7 linked regions of the Homo sapiens genome follow. The protein of the gene in region 1 interacts with the protein of each later gene in a pairwise test. Each region holds a gene or a part of one and is shown on either strand. Other genes may lie near its edges.

The links.
Region 2: the proteins of RABGEF1 (region 1) and CCHCR1 interact in binary tests that used the Homo sapiens proteins (3 or more experiments, as listed by UniProt).
Region 3: the proteins of RABGEF1 (region 1) and DCTN2 interact in binary tests that used the Homo sapiens proteins (3 or more experiments, as listed by UniProt).
Region 4: the proteins of RABGEF1 (region 1) and TRIM15 interact in binary tests that used the Homo sapiens proteins (3 or more experiments, as listed by UniProt).
Region 5: the proteins of RABGEF1 (region 1) and GPRASP2 interact in binary tests that used the Homo sapiens proteins (3 or more experiments, as listed by UniProt).
Region 6: the proteins of RABGEF1 (region 1) and TCHP interact in binary tests that used the Homo sapiens proteins (3 or more experiments, as listed by UniProt).
Region 7: the proteins of RABGEF1 (region 1) and THOC1 interact in binary tests that used the Homo sapiens proteins (3 or more experiments, as listed by UniProt).

The regions. Positions count from the first base shown.
Region 1 is NC_000007.14:66,771,733-66,775,232, forward strand, and holds part of RABGEF1 (rab5 GDP/GTP exchange factor), read left to right. Parts: intron 1-150; coding exon of another isoform or gene 151-167; coding exon 168-346; intron 347-1,958; coding exon of another isoform or gene 1,959-2,095; intron 2,096-3,494; coding exon 3,495-3,500. UniProt on the Homo sapiens protein: Rab effector protein acting as linker between gamma-adaptin, RAB4A or RAB5A. Involved in endocytic membrane fusion and membrane trafficking of recycling endosomes. Stimulates nucleotide exchange on RAB5A. Can act as a ubiquitin ligase.
Region 2 is NC_000006.12:31,141,939-31,144,870, reverse strand, and holds the end of CCHCR1 (coiled-coil alpha-helical rod protein 1), read left to right. Parts: intron 1-82; coding exon 83-184; intron 185-1,457; coding exon 1,458-1,609; intron 1,610-1,736; coding exon 1,737-1,908; intron 1,909-2,154; coding exon 2,155-2,279; 3' UTR 2,280-2,432; downstream 2,433-2,932. UniProt on the Homo sapiens protein: May be a regulator of keratinocyte proliferation or differentiation.
Region 3 is NC_000012.12:57,540,693-57,544,192, reverse strand, and holds part of DCTN2 (dynactin subunit 2), read left to right. Parts: intron 1-1,202; exon of another isoform or gene 1,203-1,217; coding exon of another isoform or gene 1,218-1,247; intron 1,248-2,820; coding exon of another isoform or gene 2,821-2,829; intron 2,830-3,500. UniProt on the Homo sapiens protein: Part of the dynactin complex that activates the molecular motor dynein for ultra-processive transport along microtubules. In the dynactin soulder domain, binds the ACTR1A filament and acts as a molecular ruler to determine the length.
Region 4 is NC_000006.12:30,166,546-30,169,869, forward strand, and holds part of TRIM15 (E3 ubiquitin-protein ligase TRIM15), read left to right. Parts: intron 1-630; coding exon 631-726; intron 727-1,754; coding exon 1,755-1,985; intron 1,986-2,695; coding exon 2,696-2,718; intron 2,719-3,324.
Region 5 is NC_000023.11:102,715,448-102,718,233, reverse strand, and holds the end of GPRASP2 (G-protein coupled receptor-associated sorting protein 2), read right to left. Parts: coding exon 848-2,786; 3' UTR 501-847; downstream 1-500. Other genes in the region: ARMCX5-GPRASP2 (G-protein coupled receptor-associated sorting protein 2), read right to left, coding at 848-2,786. UniProt on the Homo sapiens protein: May play a role in regulation of a variety of G-protein coupled receptors.
Region 6 is NC_000012.12:109,906,774-109,910,273, reverse strand, and holds part of TCHP (trichoplein keratin filament-binding protein), read right to left. Parts: intron 2,749-3,500; coding exon 2,575-2,748; intron 1,689-2,574; coding exon 1,576-1,688; intron 1,404-1,575; coding exon 1,337-1,403; intron 1-1,336. UniProt on the Homo sapiens protein: Tumor suppressor which has the ability to inhibit cell growth and be pro-apoptotic during cell stress. Inhibits cell growth in bladder and prostate cancer cells by a down-regulation of HSPB1 by inhibiting its phosphorylation.
Region 7 is NC_000018.10:219,548-223,047, forward strand, and holds part of THOC1 (THO complex subunit 1), read right to left. Parts: intron 1-3,500. UniProt on the Homo sapiens protein: Component of the THO subcomplex of the TREX complex which is thought to couple mRNA transcription, processing and nuclear export, and which specifically associates with spliced mRNA and not with unspliced pre-mRNA.

The sequences.
Region 1 (3,500 bases):
CCTCCTCTTTCTCCCTCCCTCCTTCATTCCCTCCATCCCTCTCTTAACAGCTTGAAGATAATGGAATCACTCACTTTTTGTTCATAATTGGTAAGATTTTATTTAGTAGAATGATAATTCATTTTCAACAGCACTTTCTTGTTTGTTCAGTGGTTAGCAGGAAGAAGATGAGCCTTAAGTCTGAACGCCGAGGAATTCATGTGGATCAATCGGATCTCCTGTGCAAGAAAGGATGTGGTTACTACGGCAACCCTGCCTGGCAGGGTTTCTGCTCCAAGTGCTGGAGGGAAGAGTACCACAAAGCCAGGCAGAAGCAGATTCAGGAGGACTGGGAGCTGGCGGAGCGGTAAAAGGACTTAACTAGGGGCGGTTGAACAGTGACGTGACTGGATACATAGTTCTGTCACCGTCTAAATACATTTTTTCACTTCTGCTTTGAGCTATCAGCAAGTCAGTTTAATATTAAGGAAAAGGATGTTTTCCTCTCTTCTTCTCAGTCAGCTTTTAATGAACAGCTTTCAGTAGTTTCTTCATTTTGTGTTTGTCTTCTGATTATTTTCTTTGGGTTGTGTTAGTTTTAGTTCTCAAATGTAGACAATAAGCTCCTTGGAGTGGAAGAATGGAGATAGGCATATTTCCTGGTGAAGATTAAATGAGCTAATAAATTTGACGTACCCACTGCAGGGCTTGGAAATGGCACTCATCAAGCATTATTTCCCTCATTCTTTTAATATATATTTAGCATGGCATCTAGCTCAGTGATAAAACACAGTAGTAGAAATCTGTTGACTTGTATACATAGTCATTGCATTGTAGAAATTTAACTTATATTTAAAAATTAGGTTAGCATTTGGTATTATCCGGAAATATAATGATGTTAAAAATTAAACGATGGGCCGGGCGCAGTGGCTCACGCCTGTAATCCTAGCACTTTGGGAGGGTGAGGCAGGAGGATCATCTGAGGTCAGGAGTTCGAGACCAGCCTGACCAACATGGTGAAACCCCCTCTCTACTAAAAATATTAAAAAAGTTAGCCGGGCATGGTGGTACGCATTTGTTATCCCAGCTACTTGGGAGACTGAGGCAGGAGAATTGCTTGAACCCAGGTATCGGAGGTTGCAGTGAGCTGAGATCATGCCACTGCACTCCAGCTTGGGAGACAGAGTGAGACTCTGTCTCAAAAAAAAATAAATAAATAAATAAATAAATGATGGGATGGCTAGTGAGCATAGGAACTAATAAAATGCCATGAATAATGTTAATTCTTTGCCAGAGCATTCTAGAATTCTAAAACTGCTTCAACAGAAGAAAGTCAAATGGAATTCTGCCAACTCCTCTAGCTAGTTGTTTGTTTTTTTTTTTTCATCCAGTCAGCCAATATTTGTTGAGTGACTCCTTTGCTGTCATTTGTAGTGAACTCAGAGAATTAGAAATTACACATTGCTTTCAGTGACTGTGTTCAATCAAAGAGAGAAAATTTTAGCCGAGAACATGAATGATCTCCTCAGGGTTTCCACTGCATGCCTGATGCTGTCAGTAGCAGATCCTGTTTCAAAAACAGAGTAGAGGCCACTAGGCACAAACTCCCTCAGCTTCCTCCCCTCACCACATAAAAATGTCCTAGTACCTTTATATTAACTTCTTGTCTGTCCCAGAGAAAGAGGGGTCCCGATTCCACCCTCAGACTTAGCACCTCCACCTGTGATTTTTGTTTCTATTTCTTACTGCTTTTAATTGTGACCCTGCTAAATCTCTCGGAAAGCTTGTAAAAGCAGTGATTGCTGGACCTTACCCACAGAGTCTCTGATTTTAGTGGCTTGGGAGTAAGACTAGAGAATTTGCATTTCTGACAAGTTGCCTGGTGATGCTGCGCTGCTGTCTGGGGAATCATACTTGGAAAATCATTGTCTTTTAGATAGTGCTTGTGCTTTTTGTTTGTTTGTTTGTTTTTGAGACAGGGTCTTGCTCTGTTACCCTGGCTGGAGTGCAATGGTGCAATTTCAACTTACTGCAACCTCTGCTTCCTGGGCTCAAGTGATCCTCCTGCTTCAGCCTCCCAAGTAGCTAGGACTACAGAAGTATGCCACCATGCCCAGCTAAGTTTTGTATTTTATGTAGAGACAGGGTTTCACCATGTTGCCCAGGCTGGTCTCAAATTCCTGAGCTCAAGTGATCCGGCCGCCTTGGCCTCCCAGTGTGCTGGGATTACAGGCGTGAGCCACTGCACCTGGCCTGTGTTTGGGAATTAATACAGGTGGTTCACATGCAGCTAATCCAAAGCCAAATTTATTGCTTTTATTTATTATTCTCCGCATTCTGAACATTTTCCTCCTAACCCTTCTCCTGAGTCAATTAATGGCATCACTACTTACCAAGTTAGCTAAAAAACCTTGGTTTCATTCTTGATTTCTCTTTTATCTCCCATGCTAGCTACAACTTGACCAAGTTCTATTTCTTCCAACTCAGAAAAGTCTTTTGAATTTTACCTTTTGTACTCCTATTTTCCAGGTGCTTATTTTCTTTTACTTAAACCTTTATAATATACTCTTACTTCTTGTTCCTGTCTCTAGTTTCTCTACCCTTCAAGTTGTTCACACAGCTACCTGCATGATCTTTCTAAAGTACAGATCTGACAGCGATAACTCCTTGGATTTACAGTCTTTCTTGCTTCCCTACCACATGATGAAATCCAGAATAGTGGGCTCAGCAATCAAGATTCCCTACCCTCTGGAGCCTTCCTGTATATCCAGCATCACAGTTCATCACACGCCCAGTGCTCTGGCTACATTCAGCTTGTTGTGAAGCAAACCACAGGCTTGCACATTTGTAGTTCCTTCTTTCTGGAATGTCCTTTCACTTAGAATCCTATTCAGCCTTATTAGTCAGGTGTGGTGGTGTGCGCCTGTAGTCCCAATAACTTGGGAGGCTGAGGGATGAGAATTGCTTGAACTCGGGAGGCAGAGGTTGTAGTGAGCTGATACCATGCTATTACACTCCAGCCTGGGCGATGGAGTGACACTCTGTCTCAAAAACAACCAAAAAAAGGATCCTATTTATCCTTTAAGACCTCACCCAAACATCACCGTTGTAAAGCCTCGTCAGACTCCCCCAGCAGATTGAGTTGTTCTTTCCTGTGTTCTCACAGCACTCAACTTTTACTCTCTGATGTAGCAGCTGTCCCATTCTGTAGCAGTTGTTTACTTACCTTTTTGTCTGTTCCAGCCTTGAGCTTGTTAGGGAAAAGGATTAGACTTGATTTCTTTCATGTAACCCTAGAGCAGTAGCTGAATGAGTATGAGAAGACCCCATTTGAAATCTGTAGTGCATGAAGAGCCGTCCATCCTGTAGCAATGTGAGACCTCAGACTGATTTGGCATATTTAGTCTCTAGGTCTAAAATCTTTAGATCCTCCTGAATTAATGGAGTAATAACCTTCACATACAGAGAAACCTTGGAGAATATCTAGGTCATTCTAATCCTCTCTTGAATTGCAGACTCCA
Region 2 (2,932 bases), on another chromosome or scaffold:
ATGGGTGCTTCCCTTGGAGGGTGGGGTGGGAACTGCGAATCAAAGCTCCTGCTGATATGCCCCGTCTGCACTTTCACCCCAGCCCTGCAAGAAAAGGTGGCTGAAGTGGAAACTCGGCTGCGGGAGCAACTCTCAGACACAGAGAGGAGGCTGAACGAGGCTCGGAGGGAGCATGCCAAGGCCGGTGAGCCTTGCCAGGGTGGATAGGGCCTTCCAGGAAGAAGGAAGTGTTAAGACATAAGGTTATTATTTTCCCCTCAAAGTGTGTTCAAAGCTTCATTACAGGAAGTAATGAAGGTATCCAGGAGTAGCACAGATGAATTATCACATCGTGAACACACCCATGTAGCCAGCACCAGATTAAGAAACAGCATATGGCCGGTCGCGGTGGCTTATGCCTGTAATCCAAGCACTTTGGGAGGCCGAGGTGGGTGTATCACCTGAGGTCAGGAGTTTGAGGCCAGCCTGGACAACATGGCGAAACCCTGTCTCGACTAAAAATACAAAAATTAGCTAGGCCTGGTGGTGGGCACCTGTACCCCAAGCTTACTTGTGAGGCTGATGTGGGAAGACTACATGAACCCGGGAGGTCGAGGCTGCAGTGAGCCAAGATTGTGCCACTGCACTCAAGCCTGGGTGATAGAGAAAGACCATGTGTCAAAAAAAGAATTGTGTAATGAATGTATCTTCTCTAACTAAATATAGCAGTTAACATTTGCCACATTTGGTCTCTTATCTATATACACACATATTTGTACATCTTTTGAATCACTTTAAGTTGTAATCATTTAATGTTTTGTTGTTGTTGTTGTTTGAGACAGAGTCTTCCTCTGTCACCAGCTGGAGTGCAGTGGCATGATCTTGGCTCACTGTGACCTCTGCCTCCCGGGTTCAAGCCATTCTCCTGGCTCAGCCTCCCAAGTAGCTGGGATTACAGGCGCCCACCACCATGCCCAGCTAGTTTTTGTATTTGCAGTAGAGACGGGATTACACCATGTTGGCCAGGATGGTCTCGAGCTCCTAACCTCGTGATCCGCCCGCCTTGGCATCCCAAAGTGCTGGGATTATAGGCGTGAGCCACCACGCCTAAGTAAGTTGTAAACATAAGTTGTTCAGCCGCATCTCCCAAAGCCAGTAAATTCTCCTATATAGCTGCAATCATCACACTTTAAGACAGTGAACACTAATTGCACAAAATCTAACCCAGTTCATGTTCAGATTTCCCCTGAGGAACTCCAGGATGGTTCAGGGATGAGGAAGATACTTAGGTTCAGATTCCCAGGCTCCTAGAGCATCAGCCCACCCCTCCAACTGTACAGAAGAGACAGATCCACAGAGCAGAACAGCCTCCCCAAGCCACAGAGTTGGTGACCCAGCGTTTGTTCCTGTCTTCATGGTGCCTGGCTGCCTCTGGCCTGACTCACACCTGCCTCCTCTGTGCCTTGGCCTCTCTGTAGTGGTCTCCTTACGCCAGATTCAGCGCAGAGCCGCCCAGGAAAAGGAGCGGAGCCAGGAACTCAGGCGTCTGCAGGAGGAGGCCCGGAAGGAGGAGGGGCAGCGACTGGCCCGGCGCTTGCAGGAGCTAGAGAGGGATAAGAACCTCATGCTGGTAGGAGACAGGAGGGCAGACAGGCAGACACTAGGGCCCATCCTGGGCTGGTTCCTGGGCTAGAGGTGTGGAAAGAGGATGGTGAGGGAGGCTCTATCCGGGCTAGGTTTAACCCTCTCCTTCCCAGGCCACCTTGCAGCAGGAAGGTCTCCTCTCCCGTTACAAGCAGCAGCGACTGTTGACAGTTCTTCCTTCCCTACTGGATAAGAAGAAATCTGTGGTGTCCAGCCCCAGGCCTCCAGAGTGTTCAGCATCTGCACCTGTAGCAGCAGCAGTGCCCACCAGGGAGTCCATAAAAGGTCTTGGGCCAAGCACAAAGGGACAAGGGACAAATGCGCGCACTTCAGGAATCTCCTCTTCAGACTCTCGCATGATGAGTGTTGTTCTCTGCGGTCCTTCGAGGCCCTTAGCCTCTTTTAGCGATGCCCAGCTTGGACCAAAGAGCCTCCTCTCTCCCATTCCTCATTTCCTGTGCCAGCCCTGTTTCCTCTGTAACCACGAGCACCTTCCCTTGTCTGGTGCTCATCTGCTGTCTTCCTTCCCAGGGTCCCTCTCTGTCCTGCTCGATGACCTGCAGGACCTGAGTGAAGCCATTTCCAAAGAGGAAGCTGTTTGTCAAGGAGACAACCTTGACAGATGCTCCAGCTCCAATCCCCAGATGAGCAGCTAAGCAGCTGACAGTTGGAGGGAAAGCCAGCCTGGGGGCTGGGAGGATCCTGGAGAAGTGGGTGGGGACAGACCAGCCCTTCCCCATCCTGGGGTTGCCCTGGGGGATACCAGCTGAGTCTGAATTCTGCTCTAAATAAAGACGACTACAGAAGGAGCCATTGTTTGGAAATGTTATTTCTGGGAATCTGTGGGAATTCTCCCTGCAGCCATCTCTCTTGGAGATTGTGAGAAGTGGTCCCACCCATAGCTCTCTCTATGGGTGGCACCTTTTCAAATCCTTTTTCTAGGCAGCTTTGGAAATGTTTGGGAAGCTCCTGCTTTTCTTTATTCTCAACTTTTGTTTTAAAACTCTTTTCTTCTGGAAGATGATAAATGCTAGGAGTGGGGAAGATGAAACATTCACTCGTTCAACAGGAATGTCAGAGCTAGGCACTGTATTAGCCTGGGGGCCACTTGGACCCTGAGAGCCTACATCCTAGTGGGAGAGCGAGCGAGCAGATGGGACCTAAACAGATGAACGAGATCGTTTCAAATAAGTGCTTGAAGAGAAAGTACAGTACGATGATATGATAGAAACTGACTCTGGGGAGAGGCCTCTGAGCAGGGGACCTTGTGCAGAGGCCTGCCTGAAGTGGGCTCCTGTGGAGGCCAGGA
Region 3 (3,500 bases), on another chromosome or scaffold:
CAAGAGACAGCTGTATGCTGAGAACTTTACTGCACTACCACAGTTCAGACTGTTCAACTTAGGCCTAGGCTTCTGCCCTTCATGGTGAGATAATGAATAGAACTCAGTCCTTTTGTCGCTGTGATACAAACAGGTAGTTTCACAGTAATCCTCTTTCTAAACAAAAAAATACATATTGTCATTCCCTTTTGAAGATACTGGGATATCTCTTAATAAAAAGGAGATGACACCCATTCCAGGTGTGGAAGAACCTGACTGTGCAGCTCTGATTGGCTGTTTCTCCCCCAGAGCCTGAACAGCCTATTTTAGTAGCATCTAGTGGGGTGGCTGATGAGGAGAGGATACTGTGAGTGTTCATTTCCTGTGGCATGTTGCCCAGGATGCCAGTATAGAAGTGCATATGAGCTGAATGGCAAATACAAGAAGAGCTGAATTGTTTCTGTCACCTAAGGCTCAGCTAAGTGACTCTCTGTCACTAGGGAGGAATGGGGTGGGCAGACCTTCAGCCACTTCAGGGGCCCGAAGAGCCAAGATGTTTCCTGATGTCAGCTAATGTCTCTGGCCCCCGCATGTCCCTATGGGGCTTGCAGCTTTTGGGAAGTCAGCTGAGTAATGGCTCTGCCACTGCTTTTAATACTGACGTAAATATGCAATTTGAGGAGCAGTGAATTGTATGCTTAGATAATCTAGAAATGTCATGTCCGTGAGGCCTGGGATCTCACCAGCAGCCTGTCTGTTTCCTGCCTACCTGCCCAAGACCTAGTACAAGTGACAGTGCACATGACCTGTCTTGTGGCTGAACCATGAGATTTTCAGTCACCTTCTTTTTTTTTCTTTTTTTTTTGAGACGGAGTCTCACTCTGTCGCCCAGGCTGGAGTGCAGTGGCGTGATCTTGGCTCACTGCGAGCTCCACCTCCCGGGTTCACGCCATTCTCCTGCCTTAGCCTCCCGAGTAGCTGAGACTGTAGGCGCCCACCACCACACCCGGCTAATTTTCTTGTATTTTTAGTAGAGACGGGGTTTCATGTGTTAGCCAGGATGGTCTCGATCTCCTGACCTCGTGATCCGCCTGTCTTGGCCTCCCAAAGTGCTGGGATTACAGACGTGAGCCACCATGCCCAGCCTCAGTCACCTTCTTAACCCCTGACAACAGCATTCTCCGCCTTAATCTTCAGTTTATTTTCAACTTTAATTTTATCAGTTTTTAAAGTAGGTAATGTATGCACAGGGAACAGAGGATTCAAGGGTAAGTAGTGAAAAATCTGCCTCCCACCTCTGCCTACCACCACTCAGTTCTCTTCCCTAGAGACAACCAATATGGATAGACTCTTGTGGAACCTTTCAGGGGGTCTCCAGATTTCTTTTTGGTTTTTGAGACAGAGTCTCACTCTTTCCCCCAGGCTGGAGTGCAGTGGCACAATCTTGTCTCACTGCAACCTTTGCCTCCCCGGTTCAAGCGATTCTCCTGCCTCAGCCTCCCAAGTAGCTGGAATTACAGGCATGTGCCACCACACCTGGCTAATTTTCTGTATTTTTAGTAGAGATGGGGTTTCACCATGTTGGCCAGGTTGGTCTCGAACTCCTGGCCTCAAGTGATCCATCCATCTTGGCCTCCCAAAGTGCTGGGATTACAGGCGTGAGCTACCATGCCAGCCGGGTCTCCAGATTTCTGTCTAAAGGAATAGTCAAGTTGTGTTGACCCTCACTGCTCCATAACTTTCTTCCTGTGATTCCTCCACTGTGGAAGAAATTGGGCTACTAAAGGAAAAATGTCCTCAAACATCCCTTAAAGATTTAAATTGCTAATTTAACTTAAACATAAACATTTTCCGATTCCCATAGTGGGGAGGATGGGGGAGGAAAGCATAAAAGATTTAAATTTTGCTACAGATGATCGTGAATTTTTTTTTTTTTCAAGATGGAGTTTCACTCTTTTTGCCCAGGCTGGAGTGCAATGGCGTGATCTCAGCTCACTGTAACCTCCACCTCCCGAGTTCAAGAGATTCTCCTGCCTCAGCCTCCTGAGTAGCTGGAATTACAGGTGTCCATCACCACACCCGGCTAATTTTTTGTATTTCTAGTAGAGACAGGGTTTCACCATGTTGGCTAGGCTGGTCTCAAACCCCTGACCTCAGGTGATCCACTCACCTAGGCCTCCCAGAGTGCTGGGATTACAAGCATGAGCCACTGTGCCTGGCCAATCCTGATTTTTCTACTATCCCTTTAAAACAATTTTAGCAGGAAGTAAAATCTTCTAAAACAGGAATGGACCAGGAAAGTGCACGGGCTGTAGCCCTTTCCTCCTCAATCTGGGAAGATCTCTTTGCACTTCAGACACTCCCAGGTTAATTGGGGCAATAGGCTTGCTTGGAGATTTTTCTTAAAATGTTTGGAAAACTAATTCCCAAATAGAATTCCACCCACACACACACCCCGACCCTAACCCCTGGGCCCACAGCCTGCCTTGGGTCAGTGAGGCTTTCTGCTCATGGCTTTTGAACTGCTGGAATAAGGGAAGTAAATTAAGAAAAACCTCATTAGAAACAATTTAGCTTCTCTCTTTATGGCATAACTACCCGCAGTAAAAGGGGAAAAAATGACCTAGCCATAGTTTGATGGGGCCCTGGCAGAGGCTTCATTTCTCCAAAAGGTAGATATTACTGGACACTCCTGAGATGAGAAACAGTACTTCCTTACAGTTTAGAAGATCCTGGAGTATGCTTGATTGTGTTCATTGACTGTTGGCGCACTTGAACTTACCTGAGTTTTTCCTAATGCTTCCCCCATCCTCCCTCCTCACCACCTTGCCTGGACACTAGTTTGCACAAGTAAGACCATTCAATGCTTCTTCTCTGCATGTTTTTTTCATCTGCCATCTCGCATGCAATGCTCTGCCACTGTGCTATTGTTGTAGCTAATCGTTTTAAATTCCAGTGAGTCCCTGGCTGGGTCACTGAGGGGCCTGCTGGCCTTATGTTTAAAGATCATTAATCAAGGGTTAGAAACAGCTATGATCCATGAATCATTGTCTCTTCCCCTTGTGAGGTCTGCAGAGTAAAACTGTCCAGTGGAGGATGGGATAGAAGCATGGAGGCTTTAAATGTTTTTGAACATGAGGCATTTAGGGGCTGGAGTTAGAAGGCAGTTTCCTTTCTCCTCCTCAGACTAAGATCAAATGAAGATTTTTTTATGGAATGACTTTTAGCTATTCTAGACAAGGATAGAAAACAAAAGGGATGACAGCCACAGTCCTCAGTTCTTGGCTGTATGTGGATTATCTCTGGGAAAAACTCATTTTAATATTCCCCTATGCTAGGTCTTTAGAGAAATGTAAATGGGATGAGAAGGAGGTTTATATGCAATTGTAAGATAACTTGGATTATTTGTGCTTTTGTGAGTCTTTCTGTTTCTGCACCCCTCCTTTTGAAATGGATGGATGGTCAGCAATATATTGATCCATCCCGGACAGTTTTACTCTACAGCTCTGTCCATCTTCCTT
Region 4 (3,324 bases), on another chromosome or scaffold:
CAGCTTCATTCTTTTTGCTTAAGATTGTATTGGCTATGTGGGCTCTTTATTGGTTCCATATGAAATATAAAGTAGTTTTTTCTAATTCTGTGAAGAAAGTCAATGGTAGCTTGATAGGGATAACACTGAATCTATAAATTACTTTGGGCAGTATGGCCATTTTCACAATATTGATTCTTCCTATCCATGAGCATGGAATGTTTTTCCATTTGTCTGTGTTCTCTCTGATTTCCTTGAGCAGTGGTTTGTAGTTCTCCTTGAAGAGGTCCTTCACATCTGTGGGCACTAAGTCCTTTTCTCTCCCTCTCTATTCAACTGGAAATTTATCTTTCAAGGCACATTGTAAATGTTTTCTGCTTTCCAAACCTTCCCTTAGGCCTACAGGCAGAGCTGACCTCTGTGTTCCCATCTCACTGTGTGTACCCCTGGACTATTGCATTTATCTATCTGTATTTTAATCACTTGACATTGACTTCTTCCTGAGATGGTGGTCTCTTTAGGGCAAGGACTGGGCCTTTTCCACCTTTGAACCCCTCAGCACTCAACAGTGTGCCCAGGATGTGATAGTTAATAATTGTGAGTTGAATTATTAATTCAGTCACCTCTATCCACCCATTCTTCTCCCCACAGGATCGTCTCAGGAGTCGACTGGAAGCTCTGAGCACGGAGAGAGATGAGATTGAGGATGTAAAGTGTCAAGAAGACCAGAAGCTTCAAGTGCTGCTGGTACAGGCCACGTCACTGGCTACCTTTTCCTTTGAAGGTTTTCTTAAGAGACTCTGGGGAAACCCGTTGGCTGGTATCTGTTTCCTGGCTGAAAAGAACTGACAAACTGTTCTCGTTCACCTTCCTGTGGCTGCACAAAGGCATTTGGGATCTCAGACCATGAGCACTAGAAGTGGTTCTGATGTCTTGCAATCCAAGATCCATCTTGTATATCACATTTTACAGAGCAGAAAACTTAGGACCAGAAAAGCAATGCTCCCAAGGCCACATAGCAAAGCTGAAGTTCATGAGGAACCTGGATTTCTTGACCCTTAATTCATTGTTCTTTCCATCCTAGTCTGTTTGCCTGAACACACCACCTTCAGATGGGAAGCTTGGGGTCAAAAACATATGTTAGTGTCGGGATTCTAGTCCTGACTACAGGCTGACCTTGAGGAGAGTAGGCTGATGGTGTGGCTACATCTGGATCCCTCACGCCTCTCTTTTCATGCTATAAAGTTATGGAGGAATCACAGTGTGAGGATTTCTGGTACCTTGACCAAGGAGAGAGTGTGGGGACAAAGCAACCTATCCACCATCCCTCAGCTCTCATCAACGTATGCCCTGTAGTTGGTGATTTCCACGGCTAAAACCAAAATTACACACTCTCCCACTAAGTTGTGTTGACTCCAATCACAACTTCCTTTTGCCTCTAAGAAATTATTACAGTCTTCCCCACCTAACTCTAAGAAGGCATAGTAGGGTTATGATGGTATTGTAGTTGTGGAAATATTTTTGAAAAGTTCAACATCATTCTGAGAGCATAATGTAGCATTATTATTAGAGTATCTAGCTAAGACAGTAGCACAGCCCTCATCATTGGTAAGTTCATCCTGAGACCTAACTACTTCTAGGCATATTAGTAAATGGAATGAGTCTTGGACCAGTTGCTCCCTATCCCTGTTAATCAATAATAAGTATATAGATGATCATCCTGGAAGCTATCTCTGAGCCCCTTCCTAACCATGTCTGCCTTTTATCCCTTGAAGACTCAGATCGAAAGCAAGAAGCATCAGGTGGAAACAGCTTTTGAGAGGCTGCAGCAGGAGCTGGAGCAGCAGCGATGTCTCCTGCTGGCCAGGCTGAGGGAGCTGGAGCAGCAGATTTGGAAGGAGAGGGATGAATATATCACAAAGGTCTCTGAGGAAGTCACCCGGCTTGGAGCCCAGGTCAAGGAGCTGGAGGAGAAGTGTCAGCAGCCAGCAAGTGAGCTTCTACAAGTGAGAGACACTTCACCACTTTGTAGGATAAGAGAGGGACTCCACGGGGAAGGGGGTGGGCACCATGCTTTGGGCTGGAGAGAGGCAGGAAAGGGAAGTGGAGAGAGGTTAACGGGGTGCAGATCCAGAGGGGCTGGAGACTTGCCCAAGTCATACACTGTGGTCATGTTAAGGGGTTTAGGGTCAGACAGTCTTGGATTTGAATGTTGGCTCTTCCAATTGTGTGACTTGAGTGAGTCTCTTAGCCTCTCTAAACATGGGGACAGCAATAGCACCTCCCTCATAAAGTTATTGCAAAATTATAAGAAACAATCCATAAAAAATGCTTGGCATGATTCCTGATATACAGAAAGAACTCAATAACTGGTGTCTGCTATGGTTATGAATATGTGATCCTGGCTCACATCAGGTCCAGCTGATAACTGAAGGCAGGCCCCTGCTCTCTACCACCTCCTAATCATTGCAGACACAACCCACCCCCACGATAAGGCTGAAACAGGGAAACCAGCACAAATGAACTGACTACAGAAACCCAAATTAGTAAGAAAACATGATGTAAAAGAACAATCTAATGAGTAGGTAATTAAACAGGACAACTCTCTGCAGAAGGAGAGTTTTGAGTTCATATTTTAAGGGAAAAGTGATGTACAGAATCCCTGACAGGAAGGACTTATGGAAACTAAATGTATGTTCTTGTCTTTCTTTTGCAGGATGTCAGAGTCAACCAGAGCAGGTAGGGCCCACTCCCCGGTCCTGCCTCCTTTTACTCAACATCAAGACTGAATGGGAAGGGGCAGGGGCACTTACTGCCACCCACTTTGCCAGGAAAGCAAAGGCACTCTGGCAGACACACTGTCTCATTCAACTGTGCACAAACAGTCCAAACTCACTAAAGATTTGCGTTCTAAAGGTTCATTTTTAAATTGATTGGTTGGTATTGGGGACACATTTTTTCCCCTAGAAGTGAAGTTATAAATAATAATCATGTTTTTAGGTTGATCCAGGAACATTTATTTAATCTATGAAATTATTAGTACTTGAGTCAGTATCTAACACCATTTAAAATGTAATTTAAAGGGGGAATACTTTCTGTAGACTATGATAAGCATGGAAACCAGGAATACCAGCCTGTTCTTTCATTCATTCATTTTTTACACACATCTCTGGTTTCCTTCAGAATTTTCTAATGCTACTGTAAAAGGACAGCCACCAGGAGCCAGTGGCATTGTAAATGCATGGCCCTTTCCTTCCCTGTCTGCTATAAGCATTAGCAGTCTGCACTGAGATGAAGAGAGGTGTAGTGACTAGGGAACAATTGTCACGTGCTTTGTGCCTATTC
Region 5 (2,786 bases), on another chromosome or scaffold:
CTTCCCAACTTTCTAACTGCATTTCTCATCAAACTCCTTTTACTTGTTTCAAGCAGACTGGGTTCATCCATGCTACTAGAACAGATTATTCAATTACACACTTTTCTTCAAACCACCACTGCCCACTTCCAAGAGCAACCTAATGATTTGTCTTATCCTACCCTTAGGCAAATCCCAGGGCTAAGATGGTAATTTAAATGGGTCCTATAAGAAGTATTAATTTTAGGTTGCTTGTTGGGAAGGCTCATAATTGGGCAAGCAGGCGGGCAAGTTGTCTTGCTCTCCTATCCTGACCAATTTGTTCTATCCTGACCAATTTAAGTGGGTCCCTCTTCTCGGAAACATTCCTCAAGTATCAGGGCCCACAATAATCTCTCCCTTCTTAACTCAAGAACAGAATTTTCTAATAAGCGCATGTTTGTCATACTAATAATTACCTATGTTTGTAAGTGCACACGATTTATCTGTACATGGTTCTTAAACTGAAGAAGGGTCACTTATGCCAATTTTAACATAGAACTTTATTGAAAACACAGACTCAAATAGAGAACCATATATTTAAACAACGAATAGCAGGGTAGCTTACTTAGGTGACACAGTTCATTGAAAACTTAATACTGAAAAATACCGCAATCTGGACAGCAAGACAAATATCAACAAATGTGTTTTCAGTTTTGATATTCATTTGGCATCCACAAAATGATCCAGCTCAAAACAAGAGTTTGACAAAGTTAACATCAGCATTAAAAAATATAAGTTACAACAAAAAAACAGACTGTGAACACCAAAGCACTACTCAGGGCTCTTTGGGAACATAAGGCTGATCAGCGGCAGGTGGTTAATCATATTAACTTTGTTGTCCCACCTCAGGATCATTTTGGTTGTCTATTTGGGCTTGTAGTTGCTTAGCTAACTCCTCAAATTCACGAAATGCAGAAATAAGCGGCTCAAGACTGAAATCATCATCAATTAAGGACATCTTTCCACTTTTTATAATGTTACTGATATTCTGAAACATTTTAATAACAATTTGAATATTATCATTTGTCTCTTCTATGTTAAAGAGACCCACAAATATTGAAAGAGCTTTGGCACTGAATAGTTTTTTTGCCACAGCAGGATTTTCAGACAAATTCAATAGCATTTTCAGAACGTGAAACTTCGTTCTCGCATTGGCTGTGGTTAATAAGGAGAGAAACCCGGACATATAGTTGGCAATCAGTGTGTGATAGTCAATAGTCATAGTGAGGTGTCTAAGCATCCTTATTCCAGTCAGCTGCTCAAGGGAATCCACACTATGTGCAAGGGTTTCCTCACACACTTGACATATGAATGTCTCAATCATGTTTAGATTTGGATAAGGTGGAGCCATGTGAATCATATTTTCCAAAAAACTTGTCCTAACTCTAGAGGATGGATAATTAAGCAAGGTTTCAATAAGTGAGACAACACCTGAATCTCGAATGAAATCTCGGGTAAATTGAGAAGCACTTCTCATACCCATTGCAATTTTAGATATTTCATGAATAAAAGGATCCCGAATTTTGTCCATTAATAAAAGGAATTCTTCAAACTCTTCAGAACCAATTTTCAGCTCACATTGTATGCAGCTGCAGGACCAACTCTCAGACTCTGCACTCTCCCTGGCCCTAAGATGCTCTCGAATTTCCCGGACTGACCGGTAGGAAGGATCATACTGAAATGTGAACTCAGGACTAGGCTGATCAGGCTGAAGCAAAGATTCCTGCTCTTCTCCTTCTGGGCTAAGTTCCAGGTTCTTGGGCTTTGCCTCAAGCATTTCAGAAGCCTCTTCGGGAATTCCAAAGGGGCTTGTGGATCGGAAGCCAACCCCATGAAAAAGACCAGGTTTGAATTCAACAGTGACCTCGTCCCAGGTTTGGGGCCTGGAGGATGCATTAAGCTCCTCAGCTGCATCTCTGAACCTATCACTGACCTTGTACACAGGACAGGGATTTAGGTCAAAGCAGGCCTCATCTCTGTCCCAGAACCAGGACCCAAATATGGCCTCTTCTTCAGACTCCGGCTTGGCCTCTTCTCTGGCCACAGCCCCCAAACTGGACTTTTCCTCAGCCCAGTACGCGGATCCGCCAATGGCCCCCTCCTCAGTTCCTGGCTCAGATTCACAGATTGCTGAAGCTCCACCCTCCAAACTGGCCTCTTTTTCTGCCCAGAACCAGGACCCAATAATGACTTCCTCCTCAAACCTGGGTTCTTGTTTGACCCTATCACTGTCAACATCTTTCTGGGCCCTGAGTTTCAAGGCAGTATTAGGATCTTCTTTGTCTCTGTGCCTGAATCTACTATTGGCCTCTTCTCCAGGCAAAACCCAGGACTGCTTATAGAACTCATCTTCAGACTCAGATTCAAAACAATCTTCTCTATTTGTCCTGAGCTTGGACCTGATATTTGCCTCCTCCCTGACTCTGGGCCTGAACAAGTTATTGGTATTTTCTCCAACCCAGAAGGAGAATGGGTTGCTGGCCTCATCCTCAGATCCAGACCAGGAATCAACATAGGCTTCTTGCTTGGATCTGGGCCTGGACCTGGGATTAGTCTGATGTTTAGCCCTGTGCCTGGACCTGGTATTGGACTCTTCCCTGGGCCATGATCTGACACTTGTCTCTTCTCCAGTCCAGAAAGAAGACGCTGTAGAGGTCTCATCTGCTGACCAGAACCCAGACTCATTAGAGGCCTCCTCTCTGGCCCTGGGCCTGGAATAGCACCAAGACCCCATATTAGTCTCCTCCCCTGGTCCAAACCAGGGC
Region 6 (3,500 bases), on another chromosome or scaffold:
GGGCAGGGATGGGAAGGGCAGCTTAGGTCTGTCTCCCTCACTTCAAGGGAGCTCATCAAAGTACTTAGGAATACAAAGGAGCTATCTGAAAAGAACAGGTTCAATCTAAGCATAATGACCTTTTTTTGTTTTTTTGAGACAGAGTCTCACTCTGTTGCCCAGGCTTGAGTGCAGTGGTGCAATCTCGGCTCACTGCAACCTCCACCTCCTGGGTTCAAGCAATTCTCCTGTCTCAGCCCCCCGAGTATCTGGGATTACAGGTGTGCACCACCATGCCTGGCTAGTTTTTGTTGTTGTTGTTCTTGTTTTGAGAGAAGTCTCGCTCTTGTCCCCCAGGCTTGAGTGCAACGGCTTGATCTCAGCTTATTGCAACCTCCACCTACCAGGTTCAAATGATTCTTCTGTCTCTGCCTCCCAAGTAGCTGGGATTAAGGCGCCTGCCACCACACCCGGCTAATTTTTGTATTTTTTAGTAGAGACAGGGTTATACCACATTGGCCAGGCTGGTCTCAAACTCCTGACCACAGGTGATCCGCCCGCCTCAGCCTCCCAAAGTGCTGGGATTACAGGTGTGAGCCGCCACGCCCGGCCATGTCCGGCTAGTTTTTGTATTTTTAGTAGAGATGGGGTTTCACCATGTCATTCAGGCTGGCCTCAAACTCCTGACCTCAGGTGATCCGCCTGCCTTGGCCTCTCAAAGTGCTGGGATTATAGGCGGGAGCCACCGCACCTGGCCGATCTTTTTAAAAATTAAGAGATTTAGTGTTAATTGAAGATGCTGAGGAATGCAACCTCAATTAGATTTAAATACAAAAACAAAAACCTCCACCTCTCTGTATGTAAATACATCTAGAAAGATGTGAACTAAACAGGCACCTCTGGGGATAGACAGAGATTGCAGGTGCTGGTCAAGGGGGTGATCTCACTTTGTGTTGTGCTGCTTTTTAAGTAACACAGTTACTGAAAAATAATTTGATGTTTTGATACCTGTATCTATCCATCTATGTATACACACAGACACTGGGAAAGGATCCTTACGGTCAAGCTAATTAACATATCCATCACCTCACAGTTGGTTTTCATGGTGACAACACTTAAGATTGGCTCTCTTAGCAAATTTCAAGAATACAATATGGTATCATCAGCTGTGATCAACATGATGGACACTACTCCCAGATCTCCCAACCGAGGGATGTATCCTTTGACCAACATCTCCCCTTTCCCCCAACCCCTCACTGTCTTCATTCTTACGAGAATGCACTCATATACTAAGCAATGGAAGGCCTTTTTTACAAAAGAGGCTAAGAAAGATGTCAGGCTGTCTCTTCAGACTTACCAGCTCCTCTTGGATCTGCTGTGTGCGTCTGCTGAGTTGAGCGTTATACTGATGTCTCAAGAAACGCCTGAAGGAGAATCAAATGTGGGCTGCCTTCAGTATCTCAGAAAGAATTAAATAGAAGTTAGATAACTGCTGACCAGGCTGTCTCCTTTATGGTTTCAGCAACACGAATGCAAGTCTGAAAAAGCAAGAGGCCCACCCGCCTGGGAAGAGTGGGGGGCCCTTCTGACACACACCCCAGCTCTGCCTTCTGCCGGAAGGCTTCCATCTGCTTTCGCTCTTCCTCCAGCCTCTCTAGCTCCCACCGCTGCTTCAACAGATTCTCCTGCTCCTTCTTTAGTTTGGTCGCCTGTGGTGATGATGAGAGTAAGCTCGACTGAGATCTGAGATCGTGGGAATCAGATCTTCCTTCATTCTCCATCTCCATTTTTCGCAGACACTACACCAACAGAGGCCTGGCCATGCAGGTGGTCACGATCCCCTCCCACCACTCACTTACTCATCCAATCCCCTCTGAGCCATTTCCTGCAAGGGCCTTTCTGAGCCCTGAACTCTAAACTCCCACAGGATCCTGTACTGGTCCACTCTTACTGTAACTTAACAACTGTCCTCCACCTGACACAGCCCCCACCAGGAGGTCAGGACTGTGGGCCTTGGTCAGGCTCTATCTCTAGTTCCCAACCCAGTGCTCAGCACCTAGAATAAGCAGTAGGCACTAAGAATGTAGTTGCTAAATCACGGCCTGGGCAAGGGGAAGTGAGGTCACAGGAGCATGGGCCTCCCTCTTCTAAATAGAAAGATCTCTTTCAAGGAAACTGTGCCATGTTCTCCAAAAACAGCCCCTGGACCAAAAACCCTCAGTTATGCCTCGAGACCCGAAACCTGCTCCCCACGGAGAGCTGGGTGCTAGACCACCCGATTAAATTGTGTCTACTCAGTGCACTGGAAAATCCAGATTCTAAGAAGGTTCTCCAACAGCAGGCCGCTAACCACCTCTAAGAGAACAGCTACTGGCTCCATGTCGTTAATGTTCTGGAATTCAGGCACGCAAACGAGGAGGATGGGAAAGCACAAGGCAGATGGGGATGCATGTGAGAGGGAGAACCCGGCTGCTGCCGCCCTTTGCAGAATCTCAGCCCTGCTATGGCCTCTTCTTAGGGCAGCCTCTCAAGTGCCCATCTCATGCTAACGAGCAGCTGTGGAGGAGGTCACGGCTGAGAGGGGCTTGTGCCCACCTCCACCTCCTTCAGCTTCAGCTCCTCCATCTGTTGCAGCAGTGCCTCGGCCTGGAGCTTGTCCTCCAGCTGCCTCCTCTCCTCTTCAGCTTTCATCCTTTCTAGCGCCTCCCTTCGGGCCCTTTCATATTCATTTTCATACCGTTTGTTCTCTTGCTCTGCGGTGGCTTCTTGCTACAAGGGACCAAATGAACACAGGTCAATATCTGTACCGTAAGCCAACAAAAACCTAGCTTCCTGCCGCCGTTCTGCAGGCCACAGGGCCCAGGCAGTTCCTGCCTGAATCCCAAATGACAACGCCCTCAGACGCCAAGTCAGGGAGGGACTCAATAATGTTGGGTTTCCTCCCCACTCAACAAAACACTTTCTAAAATGAACCAGGCAGCAAAGCGACCAGTGCACAGAGGTGTGGAAGCTTAACCCCAAAGGGGTTACAGTAAGCCAGGGCTGCGAGTTTACGATGCAGATTTCATCAAAAGAGAGACAAAAATGCCCTTAAAGACACACGTCCTAGCTGGACCCTGTGGCCCACGCCTGTAATCCCAGCACTTTGGGAGGCCGAGGTGGGAGAATCGTTTAAGGCCAGGAGGCCAGACCAGCCTGAGCAACAGAGCAAGACCCCATCTCTACAAAAATTAAAAAATTAGCTGGGCGCAGTGGTGCGTACCTGTGGTCCTAGCTACTCGGGAGGCTGAGTTAGGAGGACTGCTTGAGCCCAGCCAGTCGAGGCTGCAGTGAGCTGTGAGTCGCGCCACTGCACACCAGCCTGGGTGACAGAGCAAGACCCTGCCTCCAAAAGAAAAAAAGAAGACGCGTGCTGTATGTGCCACCTCCCAGCCCTGGTCACCTGGCCTTATTCTGCCCTGGGAATTATCACATAGGATTCTGGTATATGTAAGAGCAAACATTCAGTTTTCACATGTGTC
Region 7 (3,500 bases), on another chromosome or scaffold:
TTACAGTTTTGATTACGTGGGAACTCCAGACTTTTAAGGAAGTAAAACCGTCAAAACTAAATTCAAAAAGGACAATAAATAAAGGGGATAGTCTAATACTAAATATTACATAGTATTTACTACATATAATATTATATACTTTAATTACACACTATAATATATAAATATGTTGCTATTCAAAGAGGGCAGCCAGGGTATTTTATAGCATTTGAATTTTACCAGCAAATAAACTTTTACATTAAGTCCCTATCCACGAATTATTTTTTCTTTAAACCAGAATTAAACCAAAACTAATAATCAGACCATAATACGATTTCAAGGGTTTAACCTTTAGCTCTTATTTAAATTGTTACCATGGTAGCATGGTTGATTTTTAAAATGCATCTTTCTTGAATTTGTTTTTAGAAATAAAATTTTGATACAGGGTCAAGCAAAGAAATGAGGTCTCAGGATCAGAAGACATCTTCTAGAGTAAAACTAGGAAAATGGGCTCTTTTAAGAAAACTATCCCAATATCCATTCATTTTCTAATGCTACAGATACTATATTCCATTTTATGAACATGCCCCAAGTTATCCATGTCCTACACAGAGATATTTGTCTTCCCACTCTTTGCTCTGACAATGTTAAATGAACATTCTTGCACCTGTCTCCTTGTAGATGAACTGATTTCTTTAGGCACTGGGCCTTCAAACTTCCACTGCAACCCACAATAAGAAATTCATTTTACACTGCAACCCAGTACACACATATATGCAAGTATATGTACAGATATATATAAGTAAAGCTAATGCTTCACAAAAGTATATTTCCTATTTCATTTAAAAAATGCTAGTTGAAATTACTAAATTGACTTTACAAACCACCAATGATTCTCAAACTTAGTTTTTAAAAACACTATTCTGATCAACACACCTACTAGTGGGGCACAGACATCTTTAACATTCAGATAGAGTGACTGTGCCATCAGACTCCTACCAGCAGCACTGGCAAATTATTTTTATCCATAATTCTTATAAAATCTGGGTATTTTTAAATTACTGAATCTCTTAGCTGGAAACTGCTTGCTGTAGTTTTTAACTGTACTTCCAGTTACTAGTGAAGTTCCCCGTCTTCTCAGAGGTTTATTAAGGTTTCTACTTCTGAATCTGACTATTCATTTGTACATTTTTCTACTGGGTTGATTCACTCTCACAGATTTGGCAGGAATCAATCATGTTAGAATTTTATCTATTTTTCCTGGTTTTTGTTTTTATTGATCTTCTCTTTTGATTTTGTTATCTTCTCTATTGTTTGTTGTCTATTTTACTGATTTCTAATCTTATTTTACTTTCTACTTCTATGAGTTTACTTTTCTTCTGAATGACTCTCAGTGTCAGACTCTTATTAGCTTGGTTTTTAGATTTCATTCTTTTTGAAAGTGTAAACACTTAAGGCTATACATTTCTCTTCTGTGTTCTACTGAGTTAGATCTCAAAAGTCTGAACATGTAGTGTTTTCATTATTATTTAGCTCTACATTTTCCAATTTCCATTATGACTTCTTTGATTCAAGGGTTATTTAGAAGTGTGTTTAAAGGAGTTGTAAGTATTTTTGCTTTTGCTATTCACACATAATTTACAAAAACTTGTGGTTTCTGTAAGACCAAGCCTGTTAATTATTTTGTTAAATTCTAAATGTATTACACTAAGTTTTTTCCACCAAATTTATTAAATTCTGAGAAAGGTCTGTCAAAATCCTACTAGATGGTAGGTTTTCTGGGTGGTGGTGGATGGTGAAAACTGACCCTGGGTCAACTTCTCATTCTAATTTTGTCAAATTTTTGAGAACACATTCTTAGAAAATAAAGTTTAAAATGTGTATATTTCTATTTTTTCCTTTTATCTTTATGCAATGATTGCCTTTATTTTTAATAATGCTTTCTGCTTTTAAGCCTTTTCTGCCTGATATCAATATAACTATGCCTTTTAAAAATTACGTCTTTTAAAAGTTCTTTCAGTTTCAACCTTTCCATATCTTTATTTTTAAGGTATATTTCTTATAAACATATAGATGGATCTTTTTTTTTTTTTTTTTTTTGAGACGGAGTCTCGCTCTGTCGCCCAGGCTGGAGTGCAGTGGTGCGATCTCGACTCACTGCAAGCTCCGCCTCCCAGGTTCACGCCATTCTCCTGCCTCAGCCTCCCAAGTAGCTGAGACTACAGGCGCCTGCCACCACACTTGGCTAATTTTTTGTATTTTTAGTAGAGACGGGGTTTCACCGTGTTAGCCACGATGGTCTCTATCTCCTGACCTCATGATCCGCCCGCCTTGGCCTCCCAAAGTGCTGGGATTACAGGTATGAGCCACCGCGCCTGGCCGATAGATCTTTAAAATATAACACCAATTTCTGTCTTTGAGCCAGAAAGTCCATTTCCATTTATATTTGAATTTAACCATACTGTTTTGTACTTTCTGTTGTGTTTTCTGTGCTTTTTTCCTCCTCTCCTACCTTCTAATTTACTTGCTTAAATTTTCTGTATTTACTTTTACCCCTCAATTTATTTAAAAATTACATATTCCATTTCTTTCACATACTTTACAAGCATGTTTGACTTAAACCATAACATTCTTTAATTCTGACCACCCCTTCTTGTCTTACATGTCACTTTTATCAAGTTTACCTTTTAAAATAACCCTAAATAATAATTATTACTATTTTATAACAGTGAATTCTTGATAAGATTTATTCAGATTTCTTCATGTTTACCAAAGTGTCTACACAGTAATCCTTTCTGCAATTTACTCCTTTCTGGGTTCAGTTTCCTTAAGACAGCTTTTTTACTGGGGACTGTTGATAATTTCTCATAGTTTTAGTCAATCACTCAACCACAACTGTTTAACTTGTTACAGAATTTTTTAGTTGAAATGTTGAAAAAGCAAGTAATACTTCTAGAAATGAGAAAATATAGTCATTGAATTTACAAAACGAGCAGGTTTAACAGCAGTCTGGACATAGGGAAAGTAAGAATTACTGGATTAATGATTAAGAAATCACCCAGAAAGCAATACAGAAGGAGCAAGAGTTGGAAACGATGAGTTAATGATAGTTGAGGAGGTCCAGCAAACATCTAATGGCAGAAAGAAATAATAGAGAATGTGAAAGACATTTTCAAGCACTCATCCCACTGTCTTCTGATTTTTGTTGTTCTTGAAGTCAACTGTTAGTTTAACTTTGCTCCTTTGTAGGTTGTCTGTTTTTTCTCTCTGGTGACTTTATTATCATGTACAGAGATATGGATTTATTTGGTTTATCCTCCTTAAGTATTATACTTCTTGAACCTATGAATTCATGCCTATTCTTAATAATTAACTCAATTATTGCCTCTTTCCCATTCTCTATTATTTCTTTCTGCCATCAGATGTTTGCTGGACCTCCTCAACTATCATTAAGTCATCGTTTCTAACTCTGCTCCTTCTGTATTGCTTTCTGGGTGATTTCTTAATCATTAATTAACCCA